7 linked regions of the Homo sapiens genome follow. The protein of the gene in region 1 purifies or fractionates together with the protein of each later gene. This does not show direct contact. Each region holds a gene or a part of one and is shown in the gene's direction. Other genes may lie near its edges. The genes, in order: NBEAL2, ELAVL2, RALY, YTHDF2, STAU2, ZNF318 and MTHFD1.

The links.
Region 2: the proteins of NBEAL2 (region 1) and ELAVL2 purify together in Homo sapiens (tandem affinity purification; one large-scale study listed by IntAct). This does not show direct contact.
Region 3: the proteins of NBEAL2 (region 1) and RALY purify together in Homo sapiens (tandem affinity purification; one large-scale study listed by IntAct). This does not show direct contact.
Region 4: the proteins of NBEAL2 (region 1) and YTHDF2 purify together in Homo sapiens (tandem affinity purification; one large-scale study listed by IntAct). This does not show direct contact.
Region 5: the proteins of NBEAL2 (region 1) and STAU2 purify together in Homo sapiens (tandem affinity purification; one large-scale study listed by IntAct). This does not show direct contact.
Region 6: the proteins of NBEAL2 (region 1) and ZNF318 purify together in Homo sapiens (tandem affinity purification; one large-scale study listed by IntAct). This does not show direct contact.
Region 7: the proteins of NBEAL2 (region 1) and MTHFD1 purify together in Homo sapiens (tandem affinity purification; one large-scale study listed by IntAct). This does not show direct contact.

The regions. Positions count from the first base shown.
Region 1 is NC_000003.12:46,989,666-46,993,165, forward strand, and holds part of NBEAL2 (neurobeachin-like protein 2), read left to right. Parts: intron 1-3; exon of another isoform or gene 4-1,227; coding exon of another isoform or gene 1,228-1,243; intron 1,244-1,553; coding exon 1,554-1,639; intron 1,640-1,740; coding exon 1,741-2,023; intron 2,024-2,174; coding exon 2,175-2,281; intron 2,282-2,809; coding exon 2,810-2,890; intron 2,891-3,500. UniProt on the Homo sapiens protein: Probably involved in thrombopoiesis. Plays a role in the development or secretion of alpha-granules, that contain several growth factors important for platelet biogenesis.
Region 2 is NC_000009.12:23,763,741-23,767,240, reverse strand, and holds part of ELAVL2 (ELAV-like protein 2), read left to right. Parts: intron 1-2,141; coding exon of another isoform or gene 2,142-2,232; intron 2,233-3,500.
Region 3 is NC_000020.11:34,083,148-34,085,384, forward strand, and holds the end of RALY (RNA-binding protein Raly), read left to right. Parts: 3' UTR 1-1,737; downstream 1,738-2,237. UniProt on the Homo sapiens protein: RNA-binding protein that acts as a transcriptional cofactor for cholesterol biosynthetic genes in the liver. Binds the lipid-responsive non-coding RNA LeXis and is required for LeXis-mediated effect on cholesterogenesis.
Region 4 is NC_000001.11:28,743,440-28,746,939, forward strand, and holds part of YTHDF2 (YTH domain-containing family protein 2), read left to right. Parts: coding exon 1-547; intron 548-3,500. UniProt on the Homo sapiens protein: Specifically recognizes and binds N6-methyladenosine (m6A)-containing RNAs, and regulates their stability. M6A is a modification present at internal sites of mRNAs and some non-coding RNAs and plays a role in mRNA stability and processing.
Region 5 is NC_000008.11:73,551,341-73,554,840, reverse strand, and holds part of STAU2 (double-stranded RNA-binding protein Staufen homolog 2), read left to right. Parts: intron 1-2,521; coding exon 2,522-2,829; coding exon of another isoform or gene 2,830-2,835; exon of another isoform or gene 2,836-3,500. UniProt on the Homo sapiens protein: RNA-binding protein required for the microtubule-dependent transport of neuronal RNA from the cell body to the dendrite.
Region 6 is NC_000006.12:43,356,148-43,359,647, reverse strand, and holds part of ZNF318 (zinc finger protein 318), read left to right. Parts: intron 1-1,882; coding exon 1,883-2,522; intron 2,523-3,500.
Region 7 is NC_000014.9:64,419,353-64,422,852, forward strand, and holds part of MTHFD1 (C-1-tetrahydrofolate synthase, cytoplasmic), read left to right. Parts: intron 1-461; coding exon 462-573; intron 574-3,500. UniProt on the Homo sapiens protein: Trifunctional enzyme that catalyzes the interconversion of three forms of one-carbon-substituted tetrahydrofolate: (6R)-5,10-methylene-5,6,7,8-tetrahydrofolate, 5,10-methenyltetrahydrofolate and (6S)-10-formyltetrahydrofolate.

The DNA.
Region 1 (3,500 bases):
GCCATACACAGGAACCACTTGGTGGTGGCTGCATGCAGGACTGGGAGAACCAAAGACCAAGCAAGAGTTTAGGGACAGAGACAAGAGAAGACATCTTGGGCTGGAGCGAGGGCCTCCCATCAGGTGGAGGGGTGGGGTCAACCTGCCTACCCAGATTTCTCATCCTCTTTCCCCGCCATCTCCTGGATCCTTCTAGCCACTTGTACCCTACTGTGATCTTAAAACTCTCTGGTCCAATCCCTTTGTCCCCATAGCCTCCACGCATCTCCACCCATCCCGGAGACACAGGAGGTATCTCCACCTCCTGTTCCCTGGCTGCTGGAGGATCTGGTGCCCAGGACAGCTGTGGCTGCCTGTTCACAGGTGGTCCTGTGAACCTGTTCTCCCTGGTGACCCTCCACCCCTGGGTCCCCTCTCTCCTCTCATTGGAGGGAGACTGGCCAGGACTTTAGATAGGCTCAGGGTGGGATATGGCCTGGACAGAGGTGGGCAGGGCTGTGAAAAGGTGGTGACCTATTGGGATATTAAATGTCTCAGTGATGCCCCCATGGAGCTGTGGGCCTGGATCTAGAGTTGGGGCAGCAACTCCAGGAGGGGAGGCACCCCTAGGGAGCTCCTCGACTTTATTTTCCCATAGCCTGGGTGCTGTTATTAAAACAAACTGGATTTCATTTCTCCTCCCATCATATCCCTTGATGTCAACCTGACGTCCTCAAGATGAAATCCTACTCCTCCCACAGCCTTTCTCTCCACTTGCCCTGCTGCTCAGCCTGGCTTCTGTCCTCTCATTCCCAGACTGCTACCACTGACCCCACCTCAGGGTCTTAGCCCATGCTGTGCCTTCTCCCCTCCAACTGCATTCTCAGGTCTCCCCTCAAAAGCCCCATCCCCAAGGAGGCCTCCCACCCATCCAGCCGGAATCAAGCCCCAGCCCTACTCTTCCTCCTCTGCCAGGCATGTGACCCGGGGCTAGTCCCTTCTGCCCTCTGAGTTTCAGTCCCTGGCCTGGCATCCTGTCCAGTTTTGCTGGCGCAGGGCCAGGTGGGCCTCCTACGTATTAGGTTGTGAAAGCCCCTAGAAGTCCCAGGCAAAGGCATGGGCGTGGGGGGAGGTGGCATCAGTATAGTAGATACAGCAGAGTCCCCAGAGCACGGCATGGGAAGCACCAACCGTCACAGGGCAGAGGCAGCAAGAGATTTGCATCTGAGAAACTAAGCCCTGGTCATCATGGGGAAGTGGAAGGGTATGTGCTCATGCTGGGGCCCTCACTTTGGGGCTTAAGGATCTGGGAAGCTGGCTAGACTCTCAGGGCTGGTCTTTGTCACCCTTAAGTCCCCCAAAGAAGGGTTGTCCCTTTCAGGCCCTCTACTATACAGCCATAACTCCTTAGATGCCCCCCAGGGCAGAGCCAGCTCTTATCCCTCACACTGGATCTTTTACTTGGCCCAGCTCCCTCTCCCCTCCACCCCAGGGCACTCACCTCTTGTGCAGCCCCCTGGGTCCATAGCCCTGCAACCTTGGTGACATTACCCTGCCCACACCCCCCTACCCAGAGAGCCTACAGAATGCAGACCACTTGCCTCCCATACTGCTGTTACGTCTCATCCACCTCTTCTGCGCCGTCCTCGCTGGAGGAAAGGTAGGCTGGGAGGTGAGCCTGTGGACTAGAGAGCAGCTCTTTCAGTATCTCTCTGCTGGGTGAGCCCCTTGCCCACTGCCCATCTCTGTCCACACCTGCAGGAGAACGGGCAGATGGCTGTAAGTGATGGCTCTGTGAAGGGCCTGCTGAGTGTGGTGCGGGGCTGGAGCCGTGGGCCAGCCCCGGACCCGTGCCTAGTGCCACTGGCTCTAGAGGCACTGGTAGGTGCAGTCCATGTCTTGCATGCCAGCCGCGCACCTCCTCGTGGCCCAGAGCTTCGTGCCCTGCTTGAGAGCTACTTCCATGTCCTTAATGCTGACTGGCCAGCTGGTCTGAGCTCAGGCCCCGAAGAGGCCCTTGTCACCCTCCGGGTCAGCATGCTCGGTGGGTATGGGCTCCCAGGCTCTTGGGGAAGGGGCACCATGAGGGAAAAGCCTAAGTGATGATGGAAGGTCTGGATAGGGCAGCATAGGAAGGAAGGCTTAAGGCTGCCTAGAGGGGTCTGGGCAGGGCCTGACCCTTGACCCTTCCACAGACGCCATCCCCATGATGCTGGCATGTGAAGACCGGCCAGTGCTGCAAGCCACCTTCCTCAGCAACAATTGCTTTGAACACCTCACTCGGCTCATTCAGAACAGCAAGGTGGGTAGGGCCCAGCCTGGGGGTGAGGGTCTGGAAGCCAGAGGCTAGGGGAGCCACGCATAGGTGCCAGGCTGCTGCTGAGCAAACATGGGCTGGACAGAGTCAGTGTTTTGCAGCTGGTGGGATGGCTTGCAGTTCAGTGGGAGGGTGTGGGGCATGGACAAGGGCCCATCCCTTGGGGCCTCTATAGGACTGGGCTTGAGGCTTAGGACATCTTTGTGCCCCATGGAAGCGGGGCTTGTTATGGAAGGAAGGGAGCTGCTCTGGTGCCTTGTTTCCCTTTCCGTGGCCCCAAGTACAGGGGCTAGAGGAGGGCACCACTGCTTTCAGATGCAGTGCCTGCTCCCACCCGCTCATCCCCCCGACTGCCCATCTGAGCAGGGCACAGGGGGCTCAGCACCCTACTCTTCCCTAGTGCCGGGCAGGGCACCTGGCAGCTGCCCCTGGTCCTGCTCTAACCCCACCCTCTCCCATCTTCCTCCTCTCTTCTTTGCCTCCTCCACCCTGTGCCTCCCCACTTCCCCACAGCTGTACCTGCAGTCCCGGGCGCCCCCCGAGGGGGACAGTGACCTGGCTACCCGGTTACTGACTGAGCCCGATGTCCAAAAGGTACCATCCTGGGGCTGACCAGCTCAGACACCCCCTGGGACTCCCTCTTTGAGCTTTTCCTGCACTATAGCTGGGGAAATGAGCAGATGTGTGTAAGGCCTGGTGTGGTCTAGAAATGGGTGTGGGTCCTCCATGCTGTCTCGCCTGCCTTCCAAGTCCCCATCCTAGGGAACAGGACAGAAGGTGGTCTATCCCCTGCCTGGTGTTTGATTGGGTGTTGGGGGTCTGGCTGTGCCAAGCTGGATGGAACCTTCGAAACTCAGCCACCTACCTCATTTCTCAGAAGGGGAGACAGAAGCCCAGACACTCAAGGATTTGGCTATAGTCACAGAGAAAGGGGTCTCCCTCATGGTGCCATTTCTTTCTGTAGATTCTTGCACCCACCCTCAGCGGGTCACTGGGTGTCCCCCAGCCCCTGATGATGTGATCCCTGATTCACCTTGCATGTGGGCTGTAGGAGGCTGCAGGGTGTCAGCTGGCAGCTTCACAGCGGGCACCCTTTCTGGGGGCTCAACCTGTGGGCCCCAACCTCCATAGCCCCTACCCTGGCTCTGTCTTCATGAGGTAACCCTATGTGTTCACCGCATGTGGTCATTTTCTTAGAGCTTAC
Region 2 (3,500 bases), on another chromosome or scaffold:
ATAAAGGATTATTTAAATAAAAAGTTTAGAAGTCTTTATGGCTTTTTGGAAGTACCTGTGTGTATAAAAGTAGAGACAATCTTCTATTTCCCAATAAAACCTACGCTTTCACCATAGTAACAGCCATTTTACCTTGGAGCCCAGTGAAAGTTTAGAATATTCTAGATTCATCTATGCTAAAGTGCCTTTTCGTAAATTATTACTTGGATAATAACAGGAGGAAAAGCAGTCTGAATTGGCACAAGTGATGTCTAAATTAAGAGGAGAATATATATTGAAACATTATTTTTTTAAGCCTTAAAATTAATGGCTCTGTTTCACTGGAATATGGCCTTTTTTTTCTTTCCGAAGAGTTTCAGAGCCAGTGGAATCTATAAATAGTACACAGCCCAGTTGTCTGTGGTAGATTGAGTAGAGCAGAATTGCCTGTCCTTAAGTGAAGGGGAAGTAGCTTTACATTTTTAGTAACTGAATTGTTGGCCAGCATAAAGGTAAGGGCCATGTGAGCAACTTATTTATAACTTCCCATAAAGGTATGTGTCTGCCTCAAGCGGAGAAGACTGTCTGGGGTGCTTGAAATGTAAAAGTGCAGTAGAATCATTTTCCATACACAGCCTTCCTATCTAGTTGGTGCAATAAAGTGATTGTTCACCTCCCTGGGGCTTTCAGAAAGAGGGGTGTCAATAGATTAGCTCATTAGTGTCCACCTCCTATGAAATAGAAGGGACTGAGGCAGTTAAATTAAAATCTGTTTTATGTAGTGAGCAATGTTTAGATTGAACTCCTGAAGGTATTCAGGACATACATTTATGCCTGCTTTACCCTGCTGGGTGTGGTCCTGCTCATGTAGTCTTAACTACAGTTGGGTTCTTATGAAAAATCTTTCATGGGTGTAAAGCACTTTTTCACAGGTTCAGTTAAACTATAAGTAGTTTTTTGAAAAATAACATAGGGTCAGACCAAAATCTCTTGTTACAGTGGGAGAACGGAAGAAGAGTAAAATATTTTCATGGCTTCCTGTAAAAAAGTATGTTAATCCTTTTTGATAGATGCCAGAAAGTGGAATCCATCGTTACTGGCGGCATTGCTAATATCAAGAGTAAATCACAGCCAGGATTGCCTCTCAGGATAAAATTTTTATAATTATCAATAAGTAAAAGACATTTTTGGACCTCTTCTGTTATTCACTGTCTATTTTTAGAAACTAAGTTTTCTGATTATATTGACCATTTGAAGCATCTGCATATATGGCAAAAAAAGTAAACTTTGGCTTTTGTGCCAATATCATGGCTCTGTTTGGTATTTGGGCAAGTTTCAATAAGTGGTAAATGGCCCATTAACTATATTGGAGGCCTCATAGCAGCACTAATTTCAAATCGTGCTGGGTTTACAATTTACATATTAAAAAATGTTCACTTGATTTCGTTCAGGGACAAAGCTGACATCCTATGCGAGCATTACTCCAAACAATCCTATTTATCGGTCCAATTATTTCAATTGAAAGATGCTGGTTTACTGCCTCTTAGTATATGTGAGCAATTCTCATTGAAACTGTTAGAAACCGTTTGACTGTAGTGGCAAAATAACCTCACAGGGTTTCGATTCACTTTTAATTTTAAGTCCCAGGATTAAGGATCATTTATAGTATAATGTAACAGTGTGGGCAAATATAGCTTCTCTTAATGTCTTTCTGATATTTTGGGGAAAGAGTGCTTTTATGCAAACCAATCACTTAGGAATTGCATGATGACTTTTTCCCACTATAAAATTTCATTCACATTTCCTCCCTTCTCCCACATCCTTAAGAGATAAGACAGCCTGCAGTATTTTGCTTTATTTTACTTTATTTTTTAAATTTTTGAGGTGTGGTTTACATTAGTTCTTCAGAATAGATGCCAAGATAACTAGTTAATACTGTTTTAAAATCAGGCTCTTAATTAAAAATGCTTATATTTGTGCAAGAAAACTACATGTTGAAATGAATTTGGAAAGATTAGATTGGAATTGCCTCAATTTCAATTAAGCCACACTGCATGGACGTGCTGGGAATATCAATACAATCACTGTAAATTTTGTACAAACTGATTTGTTGCATTATCTTGCTCATCTAACATACGGTACTTTTTGTGTCCATATTGCAGACGGCAACTCCAAACTAACATGGCAGTCAGACTGTGTGATGTGGCTTCTCTGCTTAGAAGTGGTTCGTGGGCAGCAGAGCCTTGGACCGGGGTCTGTGGGATTTTTCTTAAATTCTGTAGGCTACTTTTTTTTAGCATGTTGGAGGAGTGCTGAGGCCATACCAAACACTTGAATCTTTCATTTGGCATACTAATTATTCTTACATTTAACCTATTGTGGTATGGCCATCATTAGGACTTAAAGCACATTGCAATTTTAACTGTAGTGGTGTATGTAGCATCAGAACCATGCTCTCGTATGTAATTTTTTTACAATCTAAATTAGGATTTAGCGCAGACTCAAAAGAGTGACAAGCTTTTTTAAAAAAACAAAAAAAGTTTTGGTATGGTCTGAATACTAAGTTACCGTAATTCTATACATTCTGTTTACTATGTATTTTTTTGGTTACTAAATTTTGAAGTTATTTACAATTCTTTATGCTCCAAAAAAAAAGTTGAAATTGTAAATCTGGCTGAAAATTATTTGCCCAGTAACTGTTGAAAGAGTTTGCATTCTGTGAACAGTTGTGTTGAGCCTATCAATGGAATATGCATTATTTGTAAAATATAGCACATTAGTATCATTTTATTCTGAGCAGATGGTCCTATAGCAGAGAGATGCTGTAATTTTCAGCGCACACAGCCTACTGCAGCTGTTCACTTGAATGTTGGCTTAGGAGCTCATTCTTGCCACCTGAACATGGAAATAAATGTGCAATTAAGTGAGGAGTGTTTGTTGTCCTTTCTAAATCTTGCTGATTTCAGTCAATGAACACTTTGTATTTCAAATGCTATCCCAATGAGCTTTAGTCCGAATCTCCCATTCGGGTCTCTTGTAGTTTCTACACCCATCCAAACTTTTCAGTAGTGATTTAAGTGTCTTTGGCCACTTTAATCTTGTAGCTCATTGTTTCCATAACTGCTGGGCAAGGGTTAACCCCAGAAGAATTTTTGCTGTGAAAAGAGTGACCCACAGCTAATATTCTACAAACCAGAACAGTTATGTTTAATTAGGAAATCTGAAACTTCCCTTTTCAAATTCAAATAGATTTGCTAATTATAATAAAACCCATATCTTGAATTATTTAAGATTTTTAAATACAGATTTCCAAAGGTTTATTTTCCTTCATCCCTTTAAGTATTCCCTGAGAAAACTTAGCTTACGTAGAGAAACAGCTTGCAGCTTGTAGAATAAATTCCCACTTCTTTGACAAGGAAATGAAGTCACAGAGGGGTTACAGGTTGTTGGATATTTCAAAAGCTATTCTGGATTTTGCCTCATGTTTTTTTATCATGACAGCACTGATTCTTGTTCAGTCT
Region 3 (2,237 bases), on another chromosome or scaffold:
AAATTTAGTAGCCTTAATAAACATTTATTAGCTCCTGAGTGAGTGGCTTGGCAGTTTGGGCTGTGTTCAGTGTGGTGGTTCTTATCTCATCTGGGCCCTCGTGTGGCTGAAGTGAGCTGGCAGATCAGCTGGGGACTGGCTGGTCTCAGATGGCCTCGCCCGCCTGTCAGGTGGTTGGCTGGGCAACTGGGCCACACGTTCCAGCATCTAGCAGGCTGACCCAGGATTCTAGACATCATGGCTGAGTTCCAAAAACCGCAAGAGAAGACAAGCCCAGTATGCGAGTGCTCTTGAGGATATTGCTATGACGTATCTTTTGGCCAAAGTAAGTCACATGGCTAAGCCCAAATTCTTCTTAACAGGAGGAGCTTCAAAATATGGCCATATTTAAAAAATCTACCTCAGGACTCATTTCACTTGCCAACTCAGAACTTTTAGTAGCAGCTGCCTGGAGTGCCTTTTGAGGATCTGCAGCAATTTTCAGACTGTTTGGAAATACTGACATGATAGTTTGGCAGTTTCTCTTATGAGCATGGAATTCAAGTGTGGGCACGTGAGCGTCAGGTATTTGCCATCCCTGGCCAGGTTGACCCGTAAGGTCATAACCTGCCCCATAGGATGTTATATGCAGTAGGCCTGTCTGACAAGACCACAGAAATAGAGAAGGCAAAGCAGAGCAAAAGATTCTGAGCCAGGCATCCTTGGTTTTCATCCCAACCAGATCATTGATTGATTGAGGTTTTAGGCAAATCAAAATCCCTCCACCAGTAGCCAGATTCTTCATAATAAACTTCCTCCATAACAGTAAACCATTTCCTGAACACCTGCTGTTAAAAAGCACATTTTACATTTACTTAATCTCCACAACCACCCTCAGTAGGTGTAGTAAGGACTTCTGGTTACAAGTTACAGAAACTGAATTCAGTCCTGCTTAGTGGGAGGAAGTTTATTGGCTCACAAATTGTAAAGTCCAGGGATCTTCAGACATGGGGACTTGGGTTCAAAAGCTGCCATCGAGAATCCGGTTAGCCAGGCATGGTGACACGTGCCTGTAGTCCCCGCTACTTGGGGGACTACAGTGGGAGATCATTTGCACCTAGGAGGTTAATGCTGCGGTGAGCCATGATCCTGCCGCTGCACTCCAGCCTGGGTGACAAAGCGAGACCCCAACTCAAGGGGAAAAAATCTGGTTTTCGGGCAGGTTCCAAGAAGTGGTAGAGCATGGCCATAGGGCCTGTGAGAATAGAGGGACAGAGGGGAGAATCCCCAAAAGGAGAGCAAGGCTTGGCTAACAAAAACAGGCATCCACTGTGTGGTTATGTCTATTCTATAGATTTTGTAGATGAGGTTTAAAAGCATGGCCCCAAGTAAAGGTGGCATCTCTATCCTATCCTCGCCTTTATCTAAACTCTGTGACCGATCAATAGCATATGATGGTGGTGGTGCTCTGCCAGTCTCCCAGTCCCAGACTGAAGCACTAGCAGCTTCCACTTATTATCTCTTGGGACTCTAGCTCTTGGGACCCAACCACCATGCTGTGAAGCAGCCCAGGCCACACAGAGAGGCCACGTGTACATGTTCAGCTGACAGCAGTATCAAATGTCAGACATGAGAGAGGAAGGCTTCAAGATGACTCCAGCCCAGCCACCGTCTGAGAACAAAGTAAGAACTGCCTCACTGATGCCATTCAAAGCCCAGCACCATGAGAGATAATAAAACGTTGTTTGAAGATGCTAACTTTTGGAGTGATTTGTTGTATCAGTAGATAACCAGGACACAGGCCCACAGAGGTTCAGTAGCTTGCTGTGCTTCTCAGGGGGCTAGGTTAAGAGTATAGGTTTTGTTGCTGGGCGCGGTGGCTCACGCCTGTAATCCCAACACTTTGGGAGGCCAAGGCGGGCAGATCACGAGGTCAGGAGACCGAGACCATCCTGGCTAACACGGCGAAACCCCGTCTCTACTAAAAATACAAAAAAATTAGCCGGGTGTGGTGGCGGGCGCTTGTAGTCCCAGCTACTTGGGAGGCTGAGGCAGGAGAATGGTGTGAAGCTGGGAGGTGGAGCTTGCAGTGAGCCAAGATCGCGCCACTGCACTCCAGCCTGGGCGACAGAGCAAGACTCCGTCTCTTGCTGACTCTTACCCATATGCCTGCATCTGTCTACCCTCTTTTCTATGTACTTGCTCCCTGGATGACTTCATCCGTGGCTTCAGACTCCACTCATGGCTCCATAATCTTC
Region 4 (3,500 bases), on another chromosome or scaffold:
GAAGCTTCGGTCCATTAATAACTATAACCCCAAAGATTTTGACTGGAATCTGAAACATGGCCGGGTTTTCATCATTAAGAGCTACTCTGAGGACGATATTCACCGTTCCATTAAGTATAATATTTGGTGCAGCACAGAGCATGGTAACAAGAGACTGGATGCTGCTTATCGTTCCATGAACGGGAAAGGCCCCGTTTACTTACTTTTCAGTGTCAACGGCAGTGGACACTTCTGTGGCGTGGCAGAAATGAAATCTGCTGTGGACTACAACACATGTGCAGGTGTGTGGTCCCAGGACAAATGGAAGGGTCGTTTTGATGTCAGGTGGATTTTTGTGAAGGACGTTCCCAATAGCCAACTGCGACACATTCGCCTAGAGAACAACGAGAATAAACCAGTGACCAACTCTAGGGACACTCAGGAAGTGCCTCTGGAAAAGGCTAAGCAGGTGTTGAAAATTATAGCCAGCTACAAGCACACCACTTCCATTTTTGATGACTTCTCACACTATGAGAAACGCCAAGAGGAAGAAGAAAGTGTTAAAAAGGTAACCCACTTCTTCTTATTAAGATTTTTAGGGAAGGAGGAACCAGAGAGAACAGAAGAGGTATTATATAGTGAACCGTTAATAAAAACTCTGTAAATGAATACAGTATCACCTAACAGTTCAAGGCTTTATAGAAGTATAATTGGTTTTAATACTTGAACCCTAATGTGAAGGAATGTGAGAACATTAGTAGAGGACAGAAATACGGACTTTGAAAGGAAAGCAAAAACAGTACAAGGAAATCAGACAGAAACAGTACATGATGCAGAAAGAGGTGAAGAATGAGTCAAAGAGATGCAGAGGGGTAATGGAAGTGATAAAACCATAGAAATTAAAGCAGAAGATTGAGTCTATAATATGGCAGAGAAAAATCGAAATGTTCTCTGTTGGATTAACTTGGCCTAGCTGGGGTTTTGTGGTTATTTTCAAGAGTCAATATGTCATCACCAACTCTTGAAATCACTTCTGTCTTCCCTGTGACAATTGGCGGTGTAAAAGAGTCACTTCTGATTTCCTCTGTAACAAGTGGGAATCTTGGGCAGAATGATGAGGAATGGATTCAAACTAGAGTTGAATTTGAAAGAGTTGGTAGCGTTTGCTCTGTGAGTATTGAGTGAATGTAAACTTTAGGATTATAAGAGGATGATAAAACTGGTTGGAGCAGATAATGATATATTATCTGGGATTTATACTTACTTTTTTTTGGACAGGGTTCTCTGTTGCCCAGGCTGGAGTGCAGTGGCATGATGTCCGCCCACTCCAGCCTCCACCTTCTGGGCTCAAGTGATCCCCCCATCTCAGCTTCGTGACTAGCTGGGATCACAGTCATGCACCACCATGCCCGGCTAGTTTTTCATGTTTTTTGTAGAGCTGGGTTTTGCCATGTTGCCCAGGCTGGTCTTGAACTCCTGAGCTCAAGTGATCTGCCCCTGCCTCCCAAAGTGCTGGGATTACAGGTGTGAGCCACTGCAGCTGGCCTAGACATTGTTAAATGTAGGAAGTAGGTGAAAAGTTTATGAGCAAGGAGAAATTTTTCTTTGAAGATCTGTGTATTAGTGGTTGAGAGAATCCTGAGTTGATTAATCTCAAATATAAAATAAAGTCTAACAAGCAATGTTTTCCTTAAATTTGTTATGAATTCATAGGGATCTTATACGTGATCTAGGATCTGAGGCATTGTTAGGCTGCTCTATGAGAATTTACTCCTTTTAGCAGTGGAGGAAGGGCTCGTTGGTACAATCTTCTTGGAGGTACATAGTTGTTAAAGTAGGGATGGTTGCTATTTTATCTTTCAGTGGGTACAGATTAATAAGAAATGGGAGTTACACTTGTCAGTGACACTAAAAGCATTGGGAATGGAGAACCAGATTATTGAAAAGTTGGCTAATAAACTTCCTTTTTGATAGTCCTTTAAACTCCTCTCTTCCCCACAGTTTAATAGTTTAACTTAAAGTCTTCCATATTAAGCCTGGCGTCATGGCTCACGCCTATAATCCCAGCACTTTGGGAGGCTGAGGTGGGCAGATCACCTGAGGTCAGGACCAGCTTGACCAACATGGAGAAACCCCGTTTCTATTAAAAGTACAAAATTAGCCGGGTGTGGTGGCACATGCCTGTAATCTCAGCTACTTGGGAGGCTGAGGTAGGAGAATCACTTGAACCCCGAAGGCAGAGGTTGCGGTGAGCCGAGATCGTGCTCTAGCCTGGGCAACAAGAGCTAAACTCCCATCTCCCCCCGCCCCCCCCCCCCAAAAAAAAACTAACATATTTTGGCCTGGCGTGGTGGCTCACACCTGTAATCCCAACACTTTGGGAGGACGAGGCAGGAGGATTGCCTGGGCCTAGGAGTTTAAGACCAGCCTGGGCAATGTAGTGAGACCCCATCTCTCTAAAAAAGAAAAAATTAGCTGGGCATGGTGGCACACACCTGTTGTCCTAGCTACTTTGGAGGCTGAGGAAGGAGGATCCCTTGAGTCCAGGAGTTAGAGGTTGTAGTGAGCCATGATTGCATCACTGCACTCCAGCAGGGGCAACAGAGTGAGACTCTGTATCAAAAATAAATAAAATTTACAGTATTTTGTAGAAAAAGATAGTTTATTGGTGCTTTTTGCTAGACATCTGAAGGGCTCTAAATGGTCATCAGGCTTCTGTTTCTAGAGGGACAAGTAAGGAGGCCATGATCTTTTAGGCATCTTTTAGTAGCATAGCAGATTTATAGACGTCTGAGGGGCATCTAGGTGCTTGGTTTGTCCACTTGAAATGTGTACTATCTTATTAATCTTTATAATAAAATTCTGTCCTACATCTTGTGATTAAAAGCAGGAAGGAAATGATGAATTTAATGCACAGCATAGTTGTTAAGATAGACTTGTATGTGTTAGGGCCAGTGGGGAAATACAGGGTGATTTTCTTTTCAATTTTGCATTGCTGGGGCCAGATGAAGAAATATGGGTTTAGAAATGGAGTAGCAGGCTGGGCGCAGGTGGCTCATGCTTGTAATCCCAGCACATTGGTAGGCAGAGGCGGGCCGATCACTTGAGGTCAGCAGTTTGAAGCCAGCAGTTTGAGGCCAGCATGGTGAAATCCCGTCTCTACTAAAAATACTACAAAAAAAAAAAAAAAAATTAGCTGGGTGTGGTTGTGGGTACCTGTGATCCCAACTACTTGGGAGGCTGAGGCAGGATAATTTCTTGGACCCGGGAGGCAGGGGTTGCAGTGAGCTGAGATCCTGCCACTGCACTCCAGCCTGGGCGATAGAGAGAGACTCTGTCTAAACAAACAAGTAGCAAATTTAGGTTTTGTTAATTTAGCTTTTGGCCAGGCTCTGGCTCACGCCTGTAATCCCAGCACTTTGGGAGGCCGAGGTGGGCGGATCACCTGAGGTCAGGAGTTTGAGACCAGCCTGATCAACATGGAGAAACCCTGTCTCTACTAAAAAATACAAAATTAGCTG
Region 5 (3,500 bases), on another chromosome or scaffold:
GTAGGAGCCAGATTATTAAGGGCTTCCTAGGTTATCCTAAGGAGTTTGGGTTCTATAGTGTAACTGATAAACTGGTGAAAGACCTTTAAGTAAGAGAATGTTCTAGCCTTGGCAAGATGGTAGAATAGGAAGCCCTGGAACACAGCAATTCAACAATAATTTATAGGCAATTTTTCTTTGTGAGAAATCCAGAAACCAGTTAAGAGGCTCCTGTATGCCGGGTGAGCATGAAACCAGCCAGATCTTAATTGGCAGGGAAATTTAAGATACCCTCATGCCATAATCCCTCCTCACAGTGCAGGGCCATACAATCAGGACAACCACCCTCCACCCCCAGCTCCCAGCTTCTTTCTGCCTAGAAGGGGAAAGATGTATACCACGCATCCAATGCCTTAGCTTTTCTGGGGCTACCCAGAGGACTGGCTTCTGTCTGGCCAGTCTCAGAGTGCTGACAGGACATGGCATATTTTAGCAACCCCGGGGCCAATGAAGAAAGAGGTGGCTGGTGGTGGTGGTCACTGTAACCATCCCCTGCTCAGCCCAGCACAAAGCTAACTGTTGAAAAGCTTCAGCTTTCAGCTTTTTCCTGGAGAGGCAAAGAGGAGCACCATGTATCCAATGACCCAACTTATCTGGGAGTTGCCTGAAGAATTGGCTTCAGTCTTGCTTGTCTCAGAGCTCTGATGGGACTGAGACAAGCAAGGGACTGATGCCTGGGGACTGCCAAGAACAAAGAAAGTGGATTAGACTAGCATAAAAGTTTGAGAGGCCTCCAGAATCTCTGTCCAGGCTGATTGGTTAGGATCTTCTCCAGTATGAGGCCAGTTTGTGCAGACACAAACACAGAGAATCAAGGAAAAATGAAGAAACAGGAAAACATTTCCTAAATAAAGGAATGAGATAAAGCTCCAGAAACTGACCCTAATGAAATGGAGATATGTGATTTACCTGACAGAGAATTCAAAGTAATCCTTACAAACATTCCCACTGAGGTCTGGTGAACAATGCATGAAAAAAAGTGAGAATTTCAACAAAAAGAAAACTTTAAAAAGTAGCAAGCAGAAAGCATGGAGCTAAAAAATACCATAAACTGAAAAAGTTACCAGAGGGATTCAATAGCAGACAATGTCAAGCAGAAGAAAAGGTCATCAATCTCAAAGACAGGTCATTGGAAATGACTGAGTCAGAGGAGAGTTGGGCTAGCCTCCAGCATTTCCCAAAGTGTTAGCTGTTTTATTCATGCTATGTTAAAGGCTTGGACAAAAAGTAAACTCAGGAATCCTGAGTTAAACCAAGTCGAATAGATTTTTGTTCTTTGAGTTTTCTGATTCTTCACTATGCTAATGTGTATTTTTAATTTCACAAAAGGCATTTGTATTATGTAATTTGCATTATTTTCAGTTTTTATTTATGGAACCATTTTATTTGGGGACCATGTTATAGAACACATTTTGGGAAATGGACACTGAGAATACTAGCAGCAGAGAAACATTGAAAGCTTGAATCAGAAGGTTAGCATCAGGAGAGGAAGGGGCAAGAACAGGAAATTAAGTTGTGTCTCTCAGAGCACATTCTTTATGAGTGGTGACTTACCAATAATTTTAAAAGATAATATCATTTGAGAGTTATTGATACCTGATCAAAAGATAAGAATAAGCAGTTTGAAATGTGGTTTGAAACTTCTCTGAGACAAATGATAGTCAAAGGAAAGTGCTTCTCTAATATGGTTTAAGCTCCATCAACTAATGACATAGCCCCCACTCCTCTTGATTTCAGAACCTGTCCATGGCCTGGCTTGAATTAATGCACTAGATAATCCCTACAATGGTCATATTCTTGAGATGTTTGAGCAACACGATAACTACTTGCTTATGAGTAAATCAGAGATGGTTGCCAGGAGTCTAGGTTGGGTCATGAGCAGCCACATGGTAGTATGAGCAAAGCAAGTTAGAGACAGTGCTAGTTTTGAGATGATACCCATTTGCTTTTTTATGTGTTCGTGAGTTAGAGTTGTCTGTGGGACATCCTTGTGGAGGTGAGAGGATCACTAGGCTGTTGAATACATGCGTTTGTACCTCCAAAGAAATTTGGACTGATTCAGCCTTTATTTTACCTGATGTGCCTCAATTGCTGTATGTGTTGGGGTTTCATGCCTCTTTTATGAGATATAAAATATTAAATTGCAGGGTGAAGACACTGCACATTCCTGATTTTCTGCCCCATTATACTTCCACACATTCAGTTTCCCTTGTCCCTTTATAGCTTCACTACTACACATAAGTCCCATTGAAACCACTTTTTTTGGATGTTTTTAAACCTCTAATTTTAGGAAAATTGAAATAGACATTATTCACCTTTCAATAGAAGCTGCAACTGCCTCTACAGTATGACAAAGATACTTGTTTGGCAGTGTTTCTCATTTCTTTGTTACTACACCAAGTAAAGCCATTGAGTTAATAATGCTATGTTTCTATTTCGGTTATTTTAAGTGTAATAACAGTGTTCTTCATTTTATTTATAGCTCCAAAAGGAATTCTTCATTTGTCTCCTGATGTTTATCAAGAGATGGAAGCCAGCCGCCACAAAGTAATCTCTGGCACTACTCTAGGCTATTTGTCACCCAAAGATATGAACCAACCTTCAAGCTCTTTCTTCAGTATATCTCCCACATCGAATAGTTCAGCTACAATTGCCAGGGAACTCCTTATGAATGGAACATCTTCTACAGCTGAAGCCATAGGTTTAAAAGGAAGTTCTCCTACTCCCCCTTGTTCTCCAGTACAACCTTCAAAACAACTGGAATATTTAGCAAGGATTCAAGGCTTTCAGGTATGAATTAAAAGCAAAAACAAAAAACAAAACAATTCATTAGCCTCAGATTCTTCATCTGTATACATCACAAGGCTCATTCTTGCCTGCTAGTATGGCCTACATGCCACTTACGTTTTAAGTTATTTAGGAACACAAAGGACAGACAAAAAAGCCATATGCACATGCCTCATTTTCTCTTATTTTTGATCTATCTAGTAATTCTTTTGCTGCCTGTCTCTTCTCCATTTTCCTTCTTCTTTTTTAAGCATTTTTCATATTCTTCACTGTCTTCTATTTGGTCTTGATTAGGTGCATCTATCTCTTCGCTCTGTCTTCCACAAACAAAAATTCTGCCTTCAGACATTTGGTGTTAGTATTTCACACTCAGTTCTCCCTTTTTTTACATAAGGATTGAGTTTCTTTTTATGATGATTTTACCTTTATAGCAATTTTGAATTTTGCATTCTATTGCTAGTATTGATTCAGGTACACCATTAAGATACAACATTCTAGAAGTCTATTACCTTAGGAGTTAATTAAACATGATATTTGAAGAATAATGAAATGCTTTATAGTTGTTTGAGGCATAACAATGTGTATTTGTTTTACTGGATCATGTTTTGAACTGACTAGGGAGGGTAGCACCTGCCTCAGATAGTACCAACAATTCTGTTTCACTGGGTAGTCTA
Region 6 (3,500 bases), on another chromosome or scaffold:
AAGCAACTACTAAAAAAACTAAGGAAAAGTCATTTCTAGAAACTCACAACAAAAGTAGCTACTAGAAACTGTAGAAGACACTAATAGTTACCATCCTCTAGATGATAATTCACTCTGGAATGTGAGTGACATGTAAGAACTTTTATTTTTTATTCAGAGTACTTAGAAGTTTTCATACATAAAGTGCTAGAGGATCTTTATTTCTATCTGTGATTTAAATCAGAAACTTTAGTTTTGTGTCATAGCCATAGCCCCTGAGAAGGTTAGCATTATTGGGTGTGGTATAGAATTCTCAGCTAAAAGAATAGCTGTCCCATCCTGGATTTTTACCTCATGCCACAAAGGTCTGAGACCTTTGTATTTAATGAAATAAAAATATATGGTGAACCAAACCATCACTTTCTCTTTTCTAAGCCCAAGATTAGCAGAGTGCTTGTAGATATCCAGAGAAGGCAAAGAGGGTGACAAAACAGGCTGTGAGAGAGCTTTATGGGTTTTAATATGTGAACCATCAAGGCAAAGCATTGGAGAACCTTCTAAATCTTATGAGAAAATCATGCTAATTAGATAAATCAGTAGTTTTTTTAAAAGTTACCATATAGTGATACTTTTTTTTCCCAATTGAATTATTAGAACCTTAATATACAGACTTAAAGTTGGAATTAGTGTGATTTAACTGGGATAGAAGGTCAAGAGCCCTGCTGGTTCTGCTTTTCTAGTACCTCCTTTCTTTTGGTAGCTCCTGAGCACTCTTTACAACCTCTGGAACACAGCTTTAAAACCATTTATCTGAGCCACGTGTGGAGGCTCACGCCTGTAATCCCAGCAGTTTGGGAGGCTGAGGCGGGCAGATCACCTGAGATCAGGAGTTCGAGACCAGCCTGGCCAACATGTGAAACCCCATCTCTACTAAAAAAATGCAAAAAGTCAGCCAGCATGGTGGTGCACACCTGTAATCCCAGCTACTTAAGGAGGTTGAGGCACAAGAATCACTTGAACCAGGGAGGTAGAGGTTGCAGTCAGCCGAGATCATGCCACTGCACTCCAGCCTGGGTGACAGAGCAAGACTCTGTCTTAAACAAAACAGGCTGGGCGCGGTGGCTCATGCCTGTAATCCCAGCACTTTGGGAGGCCAAGGCGGGCTGATCACTAGGTCAGGAGATCAAGACCATCCTGGCTAACATGGTGAAACCCTGTCTCTACTAAAAAATCAGAAAAAAAAAAAAAAAAAAATTAGCCGGGTGTGATGGCTGGTGCCTATAGGCCCAGTTACTCGGGAGACTGAGGCAGGAGAATGGCGTGAACCTGAGAGGCGGAGCTTGCAGTGAGCCGAGATTGCATCACTGCATTCCAGCCTGGGTGACAGAGCGAGACTCCATCTCAAAACAAAACAAAAAAATCCCATTGATCTGGACTGGTGTTTCTCAAACTTTAAAGTACAGACAAATCACCTGGAGATCTTGTTAAAATGCAGATTCTAGTTCAGATCTGCTTGGGGTGGAGCTTTGAGAAGCTATATTTCTAAAAAGTTCCCAGGTAATGCTAATGCTGTTTCGTCCGCACTACACTTTCAGTAGCAAAGAGCTAGAATTTAGCTTGTGTGGAGTTGTGTAACTTCCATGATATTCTGCATGCCCTAAGTCTAGTCGGAGAAATTACCCAAGAGATCTATCTAGATATGTTGGTAATATTACCTCTTGGTTAGAGGCTAAAGCTGCTTGTTCCCCTGGGGAAAGGGAGAGGAAATGTTCTTGGACTTCATGATTATAGTCTTTTGCCCTAAGCATTTTATAGCCCCCTTGACAAACACCAGTCTCTTAGCCTTGTCTGCTCTTATTCTTTCCAAGTCCATTTGTTCAATGATGCTTCTCTTTTTCCTCAGGGATGACCTGACTGATGATTCTGTCTTCACTCGAAGCTCCCAGTGCTCTCGGGGTCTTGAGCGATATATTTCCCAGGAGGAAGGGCCTCTCAGTCCCTTCTTGGGACAACTTGATGAGGACTACCGAACAAAAGAAACTTTCCTGCATCGATCTGATTATAGTCCCCATATCAGTTGTCATGATGAGCTGTTGCGGGGAACAGAACGGAATCGAGAAAAACTCAAAGGCTACTCCATACGATCTGAAGAAAGGAGCCGGGAGGCCAAAAGACCCCGTTATGATGACACAGTGAAGATAAACAGCATGGGAGGGGATCACCCAAGTTTTACATCAGGAACTCGCAACTATCGACAGCGTAGAAGAAGCCCAAGTCCTAGGTTTCTCGACCCTGAGTTTCGAGAACTGGATCTTGCCAGACGAAAGCGAGAGGAAGAGGAGGAGCGAAGTAGGAGCTTGAGTCAGGAGCTGGTTGGAGTTGATGGTGGTGGTACTGGCTGTTCCATCCCTGGATTGTCAGGTGTCCTAACAGCATCGGAGCCAGGATATTCTTTGCATCGGCCTGAGGAAGTATCTGTGATGCCCAAGAAATCCATTTTGAAGAAGCGGATTGAGGTGGACATAATGGAGCCCTCCATGCAGGTCTCTGCTGCATTTCTTGTAGGGCCTCTTGCTAGTCTCCCTAATATCTTAAAGCCTGCTTACTTTCCTGTGGGCTATGTTCCTAATGGTATCTTTGTAATATGTGCTGGACCGACATTGTGAGCTACACCTTCTAGGACTCTCCAAACGAAACTGTAGGCCTTTTAATGCATCAGTAGAGGGTTCTATTGCTGTATATTAGGCTTTATATTAATAAATAGATATTTTGGAGAGTACTGTAAGTTTTTTTACTTAAATTGGATTATCCTTTGGCAATCTTTGAGTATGGGTTTGTTGGAAATGAACCTTGAAGGGCAAGGGGAGGAGGTGATCTCAATTTTCTCATCTCTCTTTAGAGAGAAGACAAGATGTATGAGTTGTAGGACACTGGACTAGAAATCAGATGATTCTGATTTTGGACCCACTTCTGCCACCAACTTACTGTGATTTTTAGACAAGTCACCTCACCATTCTGAGCCTTGATATTTTTCCCTGACCTGTGAAAGGATGGTCAGACCACTAGTGGAAAGACCACTAGTTTTTAGCTGTCCTCTTAGGAGATAAAGGCTTCTGAAGAGGTTCCCAAGCAAAGGAATGCTGATGAGTTAGCGTTCCAGAGTTTCCTCTCCCCACTTCAGCCAAAGCAGCTTTTTTTTTCCTTTTCTTTTGGGGATCCATAGAAAAGAAAACAAGCTAGGGGATCTCTAAAATTCTTTTGAATTCAAATTCCTTTTAACAAATAGATAAAGGTGAGGATTCCATCCAGTTTGCCTCACTTCCTGTTTCTCCTCAACAGTAGAAACATCTGGAGATAAGGGGATTCACATTTTGAATCTGGCTAAGGATACTTTTCCTCCCTTTTATCCATACTTGTATCTCACCTGTTAATTCAGGAAGACCAAAGTATTTAAGTATTTATCTCAATTACTAATGTTCTGAGATTCTGCATAAGACTAAATCAGTTGTGTTTGTCTTTGC
Region 7 (3,500 bases), on another chromosome or scaffold:
TTCCTGAGCCCAAGAATGCGCACACACACACACGTGCCTGTTGACAGTGCAGTCTCTTAAATGTGGGGAGAGAGCAGGAGAGAGGCCTAGTACTTTCTCTTTTAATCCTCCCAAAGTAGTGCTCTACATTCTGTAGGAGAAGGAGCAGTGTCTGGACATAACACGCAGGGCCCCAAGCCTGTTTGCCCCTCTGCCTTGCAGGTTGACACTGATTTCCCTATTGGGTAAAATGGCTGGTGAAAGGGAGCTCTTTGGCATGTGTAGAAATGAGCACGGCATGTGAAGGGCTGTCAGAAACAGTGTGTGGCTTACATTTGAGGCCTTAACCCAATATCTTATGAAATAGCTTATGACACTTAAGAATTTAATACAAAGCTCAGGGATATCCTTTTCATTTCTGGGTTTTTTTTTGGTGTGTATTTCATTATTTCATTTCTGATGTCCAAATCCCCTACCCCTAGGTAAATAAAGGTGACATCCTGGTGGTTGCAACTGGTCAGCCTGAAATGGTTAAAGGGGAGTGGATCAAACCTGGGGCAATAGTCATCGACTGTGGAATCAATTATGTCCCAGGTGAGTGTTGTTGGAGGAGTAAGGTGGCTGCTGGTATTGAGGATGGTATCTAGGTCATCAAAAGAAGCCTGAGAGAGAAGCTTGTCTCATTTTATGCTTGTAGTACTAAGGTTTAGGAGACTGACTAGCCCAAGGGTGCACAGAGTTAGTAGATAGAAGAGTTGCCACTTGCAGGCAGGTCTGCCTGGTGCCAGAGCCTTTGATTTTCATCATGTGCTGTACAGCTTCCAAGATGACTTTGTCCAGGGAGAAAGTGAGAGGGAGGGCAGGAGGGATATATCACTTTATCTTCATGTAGAGATCACCCTTTATTTTAGCAAAGTTGATGGATGGATTTAAAATACAGTATAATTATTGCAAAGTGCTATGAGAGTCCAGAAGAGGGACTCATTCTGCCAAGAGGAGGGCTTTACAAAGAAGATATTTGACCTGGGTTTTTTTCTAGGCTGAGAGGATAAATCTAGCCTTTTAATCATGTCCAAAACTGTACTCGGCATCCTCATCCCCAAGTTACCCCTTACTCCCGTCTTTTGGTTAGTATCACCATTCTTCCTTCCCGCAAGTCTGAAGCCTTTTAGTTTCCCTCCCAAGCATTCCCTATATTGGACCAGTCTCTAAATATTAGGAATTGTTTTCTCTCTCCTCTGTTCTGAGTGTCACCACTGAGTGTTACCTTCTCAGCTGATGGGCTGTGATAACTTCCTTGCAGGTGTCCCTCCCTCCAGCTGCTTCCCACTCAGATCTATCCCCGTGCTCTCGCCTTGCCACGTTCACCTTCTGGCATGGAACTCTGAGCCTCTTCCTTCTTACTTGCCAGACTCCTTAGCCTCACACTAATTTCAGTGACCTCTGCAGCCTGTGATCTCACTTGCGCATGGTGAATACCTGTCTTCAACTTGTAAAGTGGACCACTTTCCCTTCCCTGCGCATGCCTCGTTTGCCCTTTGTAGTTCCCTCACCTGCATTCTTAGTGGAGTGGGCTACTCTTTCAAACAGAAAACTTCACAGAACAATAGGGCAAAACTTGCGTACGTCCTCATAGATCCAAGAAAGGAACAATCTTTAACGGAGCAACTACTGTGTATCCAGCACAATGCCAGGCCTTGGGCTACACAACTGAATAAGGTTCAACTTCACCTTCACCTTCAGCTGCTTCCTCCCCATCTCCTCTCTGTCATGTCTGTTATTCCTTCCAAACCTTGTTTGATTTCCCCTTATCAAGGGATGATCTTTCCTTCTCTCCCTCCCTCCTCTCCCATAGAACATGTGTATTGTATCTTTTGTTGCATGTGTCTCATGTACGGCGTCCTGTGCTCTCCTGCCTAGATAGCTCCTCAAGGGCAGTGGTCACTGTGGCGCCACATCCAGCTTCCTGCCATCTGACCACTGGCACTCATATCTATTGAATTGTCGAAGGGAGTTATAGCTGGAAGTCTTTTTTCTCCCTTCCCATCTCAAGTTTCAGATGTAGACGCTGAGCTGCCAGGAACATTAGTCACTGTCAAGCCTTCACCGTTTTTAACCTCCCTCCCACTCTCCCTACCGTGCTTTTAAGACAGTAGCTCATAATTGATCACTCATTTTCTTGTAGTGTAATTATCTAACAGGCGATAAAGAAATTGCTCTCCTACAACTCCTCACTTTGAATACTTGCGATATGACATTCAAGCTCAGTCTTTTTATTTATTTATTTTTTTAATTTTTTTTTTTTTTCTTGAGACGGAGTCTCGCTCTGTTGCCCAGGCTGGAGTGCTGTGGCGCGATCTCGGCTCACTGCAAGCTCCGCCTTGCGGGTTCATGCCATTCTCCCGCCTCCGCCTCCCGAGTAGCTGGGACTACAGGCGCCCGCCACCACGCCCGGCTAATTTTTTTTGTATTTTTAGTAGAGACGGGGTTTCACCATGTTAGCCAGGATGGTCTCGATCTCCTGACCTCGTGATCCGCCCACCTTTGCCTCCCAAAGTGCTGGGATTACAGGCGTGAGCCACCGCACCCAGCAAGCTCAGTCTTTTTAAAACCTCGCATCTTCTGTATCATATTTCTGCTTTTGGCATTTTTTTTTTGGATTACATGTGAGAAATGGAGAAGAAAAACCTGAGTGGGGATCTTGAGTGTTGCAGATAGGTAGGAAATGTTGACTTAAACATGAAACTTGCCATCCTTTTCACATTGATTCCTTATGTAGACAATAAAATATGAATAAAATCAAAGCAGTATCTTCCCTTCTGGTCAACAGTGTTTTTACTGATCTTGGGCATATAGGCAAATTAATGCTGATACAGCTGGATGTTATTGTGTTCCCCAAAGGATGGCAGAATCACTCAGTTACAGACCAGCAAATGGGCTGCAGGACCTAAAGACTGATATTTGCAAATGTTCACTTTAGAAGCAAACTTTTCTACCACCGAGCTACTTCTTGGTTCATATTTTGATTATTTAAATAGTTTGCATGGTCCACTCAGGGATAACATTGTAAGTCACTTGCCAAATTAAGAATGAATCAAGGTGTGTATACCTTTTACAAAGAAGTAATATTTTTAAAGATTCAAGTGCAGGGCAGAAAGTATTGGCCAGAGAAACACATAAAAGTGCTCTTCCTGCTTGGCTTACTAAAGATAAATTGAGAAGGGCCAGATCAATAGTGTTTTATTTGGAAGGGTTAAAAAGTGGGAACAGATTCCCCACCCTAATGCAATCCAGTCTCAACCTATCCAGTGTAGCTGCTTCTGGACTGGCCTCTATTATTAGGGTCCCCAAATTAAATGTAGAAGAGTCAGGGCTCAGCTGGATCTTTAGTTGATTTTTGTACATGTGATTTCCCAAAGAAAGAGAAATTCTAGGGCTGGGGGTAGATAACCAAAAGGTTTGCTCATTACTGAGGTCATATGCTTAGGCTGAGTAGTGGTCACTTTTTCCACTGACCACAT